Homo sapiens: one gene and its partner. The protein of the gene in region 2 interacts with the protein of the main gene of each other region in a pairwise test. Each region holds a gene or a part of one and is shown on either strand. Other genes may lie near its edges.

Region 1 (3,500 bases), on a different chromosome or scaffold from region 2:
ACAATTTCACAATTGTGAATTGTGCTGCTATAAACATGTGTGTGCAAGTATCTTTTTTGAATAATGACTTCTTTTCCTCTGGATTGATACTGAGTAGTGTGATTGCTGGATCAAATGGTAGTTCTACTTTTAGTTCTTTAAGGAAACTCCACACTGTTTTCCATAGTGGATGTACTAGTTTACATTCCCACCAGAAGGGTAGAAGTGTTTCCTGTTCACCACATCCACACCAACATCTATTTTTTTTTTGATTTTTTGATTATGGCCATTCTTGCAGGAGTAAGGTGGTTTCACAATGTGGTTTTAATTTCCATTTCCCTGATCATTAGTGATGTTGAGCATTTTTTCATGTTTGTTGGCCATTTGTATATCTTCTTTTGAGAATTGTCTATTCATGTCCTTGGCCCACTTTTTGATGGGATTGTTTGTTTTTTTCTTACTGATTTGTTTGACTTCCTTGTAGATTCTGAATATTAGACCTTTGTCAGATGTACAGATTGCGAAGATTTTCTCCCACTCTGTGGGTTATCTGTTTACTCTGCTGTCTGTTCCTTTTGCTGTGCAAAAGCTCTGTAGTTTAATTAGGTCCCAGCTATTTATCTTTGCTTTCATTGCATTTGCTCTTGGGTTCTTGGTCATGAAATCCTTGCCTAAGCCAATGTCTAGAAGGGTTTTGCCAATGTTATCTTCTAGAATTTTTGTAATTTCAGGTCTTAAGTTTAAGTCCTTAATCCATCTTGAGTTGGTTTTTGTATAAGGTGAGAGATGAGGATCCAGTTTCAATCCCCTACATGTGGGTAGCCAATTATCCCAGCACCATTTATTCAAAAGGATGTCCTTTCCCCACATTATGTTTTTGTTTGCTTTGTCAAAGATCAGTTGGCTGTAAGTATTTGGGTTTATTTCTGGGTTCTCTATTCTGTTCCGTTGGTCTATGTGCCTATTTTTATACCAGTATCATGCTGTTTTGGTGACTATGGCCTTATAGTATAGTTTGAAATCAGGTAGTGTGATGCCTCCAGATTTGTTCTTTTTGCTTAGTCTTGCTTTGGTTATGTGGGCTCTTTTTTGTTCCATATGAATTTTAGAATTTTTTTTTCTAATTCTGTGAAGAATGATGGTGGTATTCTGATGGGGATTGCATTGAATTTGTAGATTGCTTTTGGCAATATGGTTATTTTCACAACATTGATTCTACCCATCCATGAGCATGAGATGTGTTTCCGTTTGTTTGTGTCATCTGTGATTTCTTTCAGCAGTGTTTTATAGTTTTCCTTGTAGAGGTCTTTCAACTCCTTTGTTATGTATATTCCTAAGTATTTTATTATTACTATTATTATTTTTTGCAGCTATCATGAAAGGGGTTGAGCTCTTGATTTGATTCTCTGCTTGGTCGCTGTTGGTGTATAGAAAAGCTACTGATTTGTGTACATTAATCTTGTATCCAGAAACTTTTGCTGAATTCTTTTATCAGTTCTAGGAGCTTTCTGGAAGAGTCCTTAGAGTTTTCAAGTTAAACGATCATATCGTCAGCAAACAGTGACAGTTTGACTTCCTCTTTACTGATTTGGATGCCCTTTATTTCTTTCTCTTGTCTGATTGCTCTGGCTAGGACTTCCAGTACTATGGTGAAGAGGAGTGGTGAGAGTGGGCATCCTTGTCTTGTTTCAGTTCTCAGAGGGAATGCTTTCAACTTTTCGCCATTCAGTATTACGTTGGCTGTGGGTTTGTCATAGATGGCTTTTATTACATTAAGATATGTCCCTTGTATGCCGATTTTGCTGAGAGTTTTGACAATAAAGCAATGCTGGATTTTTTCAAATGTTTTTTCTGCATCTATTGAAATGATCATGTGATTTTTGTTTTAAATTCTGTTTATGTGGTGTATCACATTTATTGACTTGCATATGTTAAACCATCCTTGCATCTCTGGTATGAAACTCACTTGATCATGGTGGGTTATCTTTTTGATACATTGTTGGATTCAGTTAGCTAGTATTTTGTTAAGGATTTTAGCATCTATGTTCATCAAAGACATCAGTCTGTAGTTTTCTTTTTTGGTTACGTCCTTTCCTGGTTTTGATATTAGGGTGATGCTGGCTTCATAGAATGAATTAGGGAGGGTTCCTTCATTCTCTATCTTGTGGAATAATGTCAAAAGGATTGGTACCAATTCTTCTTTGAATGTCTGGTAGAATTCTGGTGCGAATCCATCCGTTCTTGGACTTTTTTTGTTGGTAATTTTTAAATTACCATTTCAATCTTGCAGCTTGTTATTGATCTGTTTAGTGTATCTAATTCTTCCTGATTTAAGCTAGGAGGGTTGTATTTTTCCAGGAATTTATCCTTCTCCTCTAGGTTTTCTAGTTTATGTGTGTAAAGGTGTTCCTAGCAGCCTTGAATGATCTTTTGTATTTTGGTGGTGTCAGTTGTAATATCTCCTGTTTCGTTTCTTAGTGAGGTTATTTGGATTTTCTCTCTTCTTTCCTTGGTTAATCTTGCTAATGGTCTATTAATTTTATTTATCTTTTCAAAGAAACAGCTTTTTATTTCATTTATCTTTCATGGGTTTTTTTGGTTTCAATTTCATTTAGTTCTGCTCTGATCTTGGTTATTTCCTTTCTTCTGCGGGTTAGGATTTGGTTTGTTCTTGATTCTCTAGTTCCTTGAGGTGTGACCTTAGATTTTCTGTTTGTGCTCTTTCAGACTTTTTGATGTAGGTGTTTAGGGCTATGAACTTTCCTCTTAACACTGCCTTTGCTATATACCAGAGGTTTTGATAAGTTGTGTCATTATTGTCATTCAGTTTGAAGAATTTTTAAATTTCCTTCTTGATTTTGTTTTTGACTCAATGCTTTCAGAAGCAGGTTATTTAATTTCCATGTATTTGAATGGTTTTGAAGATTCCTTTTGGAGTTGATTTCCAGTTTTATTCTACTGTGGTCTGACAGAGTGCTTGATATAATTTCAATTTTCTTAAATTTATCAAGTCTCATTTTATGGTCTAGCATATGGTCTATCTTAGAGAAAGTTCCATGTGCTGTTGTATAGAATGTGTATTCTGCAGTTGTTGGATGAAATGTTCTGTCAGTTGTAATATCTCCTGTTTCATTTCTGTTAAGTCCGTTTGTTCCAAGGTAGTTTAAATCCATTGTTTCTTCATTGACTTTCTGTCATGATGGCCTGTCTAGTGCTGTCAGTGGAGTATTGAAGTCCCCCACTATTATTGTGTTGCTTTCTATCTCATTTCTTAGGTCTATTAGTAATTGTTTTATAAATTTGGGACCTCCAGTGTTAGCAGCATGTATGTTTAGGATTGTGAAATTTTTCTGTCGGACAAGGCCTTTTACCGTTATATACTGTCCCTCTTTGTCTCTTTTAACTGATAATGCTTTAAAGTTTGTTTTATCTGATATAAGAATAGCTACCCCTGCTTGCTTTTGGTGTCCATTTGCATGAAGTACCTTTTTCCACCCTTTTACTTTAAGTTTATTTGAGTC
Region 2 (3,500 bases):
TATAATTCTATTTCCCTGGAGTATAGGGTATATGAAGAGTATAAGGATGGTATGGGGTTAGAATGAGGGATTATGGAAGGCCTTGATTGTAGACTGAGCAAGTAAGATATGTGGTAGGCATTTGTGAGAAATTACAGCTTTTTGAACATGACTGTGGGGATGGAAGATTACTCTGAATTAGGAGGATAATTTTAACCAGGGTATTGGAAGGATTGAAATGAGAAGAGAGCAAAGACAGACATGTTAGCAAAATGTAACCTAAGCATTAGTTGATGAGAACCTTGACTTTATAGCAGTGGTAATGTAAAAGTGACAGAGTCAAGACATTGAAACACTGATGCCTGGTTTTGGTGAGCTGCTGGAGAGGAAGAAGAGGGAACAATAAAAGAAAACTGACTTTTGAGGCGAGGTAACTAACAAAGGTGTTACCATTGCCAAAACTGAGGAGGAGAAATAGTGAAGGGATTAAAATGTAGTAAGTTACTCTGTGCTTTGTAGACATGGTAATGAAACTCTGACAACAACCCTATAGATGTTACCCCAATTTTATATATGAGAAAACCAAGGCTGAAAGTTAGAATTTGCCAAAAATCATACTGTTAAGTAACCAGATGTGCAGGACTCGTCAGGGAATTTTGAGTGTCTTCTGTCCAAATGTGGTGTTATATTAGAGTATTGATGCTGTTTGCATCATTTTAACTGTCTTTAAAAGCCTATCTAGTAAGAAGTGAATTCTTAGGTGTACCCTATATCTAAGGAGTCTTGTTTGTGGGTCATTCATTCGTTTGTGCAAACAAACACATGGAGAGTTCTGAGGGTAGACCCTGGGCTGGCATCCAGCACTGCCACTAATTAGCTCTATGACCTTGGGCAGGTTTAACTTCTGTAGGACAGTTTTCTCATATGTAAAAGGAGGATGATGGTAGTACTTACCCATTTCATAGGATATTATAAAAATTAAATTATTCAATACATTAGCATGCCTAGTATTTGCTAGTGAAATGAACAAGTATCTTCTGAGTGACTGCTTTGTCCTAGGCATCATGTGAGAGCCTAGGAATATAGTAATAAGCAAGATAAGCAGCAAGACTTACATTCAGTTGAGGAGGTAGATGATTTCTGGCCTCTTTTTATCACAAGAGTGCATATTAAAGTTAAAATAGCCATCATCCATCTGTAACCAGTATTAGAGTATCTAGTTGAAGGATCTATTTAGAACCGCAGTGTCCATTTTGGTTGCCGTTATCCATGAGACTATTCAAATTCTAATTACAATTAAGTGTATTTATAAATTCAGTTTCTCATTTTCTCATTCATGTTAGCTATATTTCTAGTGCTCAATAGCCAGATATGGCTAGTGGCTGCCACACTGGACAGCACAGACAGAGAGCGTTTCTAACATCACAAAAAGGTCTATTGGACAGTGCTAATCTAAAAGAAAATTGGGTCTCTAACAAGAAATATTGATAACAAGTTCTTAAATTGGAGCCACCTATGTATTTTTTGTGCATGTTCTTTAACTTAAATAAGACTGTATACTTTGATCATAGGCATGTGTAAAAATGTTATTACCCTTGAAGGAATTTTCATGTGTACATTTTTTTACATTTAGAATATTGTTCATTGCTAGGTAGGCAGTAGTATTTATGACAAAAACAGAAGAATTTCTTCAAAGAATTAATGAGACCCAGTTGGCCCTGCTGCTGGTCCATAATGCTATATTTATTTTCCCAAAATGCACAAGTCTAATTTTGTCATTTTATTGCTTGGCAAATAAAATACAAACTCCCAGGCTTAACATTCCGGGCCTCCCATGATCTGGGGTCTGCTGGTTTTTCCATCTAGACTCCTTAGCATTCCCCACATACAGCCAATCCCTTACCACCTCTATGTCTTTGCTTTTTCCATCTTAGAAGGTCTCAAAATAAACCCTGGCCCCAGATGCCTGATGTTTCTCAAATGCCACCTTTTTAAAATGAAATTTTCCCTGATTAGCTTAGCAAAAGTAATCTCTTCCTCAACTTGAATAGCTTTTTGTTAAATCATGTCTTTGAAGCTCATCACATCACTCCTTTACAGCATAAATGTTTGTAAACATGTAATTTTTTTCTTCGAAATTGCAAAATCTCTGAGGGTAGGAAATAATTTGCTTCTTTAATAGGACCCCTATGGTAGAAACTTAAAAGTCTAAGGTCTTTAAAAGCCATTTAGTGATGGCTGACTTAAAGCAGATGATATTAGTAGATAATAATTGAGTACTCACTGTGTGCCAGGCACTGTGCTTAGAGGTACGTGTGCATTTACACCCTCGTTTGGTAGAACCTTCATATTTAGTTGTGGAAACTAAAATTTAGAGTGCTCTGTGCCTTACTCAGGTTTACGCAGTTGCTGAATAGTTGAACTTACACTCAAACAGGACCAGTCTTTGACTCCAGAGCCTGTAGACTTAACGATACACCTTTTGCAACTTAGACCCTGAGAAATTCTGACTTAGTGAGTGTCCGTGATTCTGAGAAACCTTGAATGTTAGAGATTGGTTTGAGGATACCTCATTTATGTGAAACCTCATCGTAATAAAATAGTTTGAATTGAAATTGAAGTAGAAATACTTATTTTCTTTCTGAAGTCTTTTCTTTGACTACATGAATGCTTTAAAAAGGTCTATTGGCCGGGTGTGGTGGCTCACGCCTGTAATCCGAGCACTTATGGGAGGCCGAGGCGGGCGGATCATGAGGTCAGGAGATCGAGACCATCCTGGTTAACATGGTGAAACCCCCTCTCTACTAAAAATACAAAAATTAGCTGGGCATGGTGGCGTGTGCCTGTAATCCCAGTTACTTGGGAGGCTGAGACAGGAGAATCGCTTGAACCAGGGAGTCGGAGGTTGCAGAGAGCCAAGATCATGCTACCGCACTCCAGCCTGGCGACCAAGCAAGACTCCGTCTCAAAAAAGAAAAAAAAAAAAAGATCTGTTGGAATGTGGTGGTGAAAAGTAATTTTGTTTTTGTAAGCTAGTACACAAAATTAATTTTTGTTTGCTCATTTACTTAACAGGACATCTGGAGGACCTGTTGATGCTAGTTCAGAGTATCAGCAAGAGCTGGAGAGGGAGCTTTTTAAGCTCAAGCAAATGTTTGGTAATGCAGACATGAATACATTTCCCACCTTCAAATTTGAAGGTACGTCTTATAAATCACAGATTCATTCTTGTGGGGGATAAGTGAAGAATATTTACACTTACCTGGATTTTTAGAGAACTGAATGACAGTGTTGACATGTGAATTTATTAGGACCATGACGTGTGCCTGAGAAGCTGCCGGCTAAATGTTTGCTGTTAGAATAAGAGCAGTATAGGAGATCACATAACATAGTGATTAAATGGTGGGGATCTGAAATCGAACTGCCCAATCTTGAATCCTTATAATCACTTTCAGCTGTGTAATCTTGAGTAATTAACTGGTGCATGTCTCCTCATCTGACATTTGGGGAGAATTATAGTA

What was found. Proteins that work in one complex are often made in the same cells at the same time.
Region 1: the proteins of ATP5PF (region 2) and MALL interact in binary tests that used the Homo sapiens proteins (3 or more experiments, as listed by UniProt).

The regions. Positions count from the first base shown.
Region 1 is NC_000002.12:110,109,323-110,112,822, reverse strand, and holds part of MALL (MAL-like protein), read left to right. Parts: intron 1-3,500.
Region 2 is NC_000021.9:25,724,905-25,728,404, reverse strand, and holds part of ATP5PF (ATP synthase peripheral stalk subunit F6, mitochondrial isoform a precursor), read left to right. Parts: intron 1-3,054; coding exon 3,055-3,179; intron 3,180-3,500. UniProt on the Homo sapiens protein: Subunit F6, of the mitochondrial membrane ATP synthase complex (F(1)F(0) ATP synthase or Complex V) that produces ATP from ADP in the presence of a proton gradient across the membrane which is generated by electron transport complexes of the respiratory chain.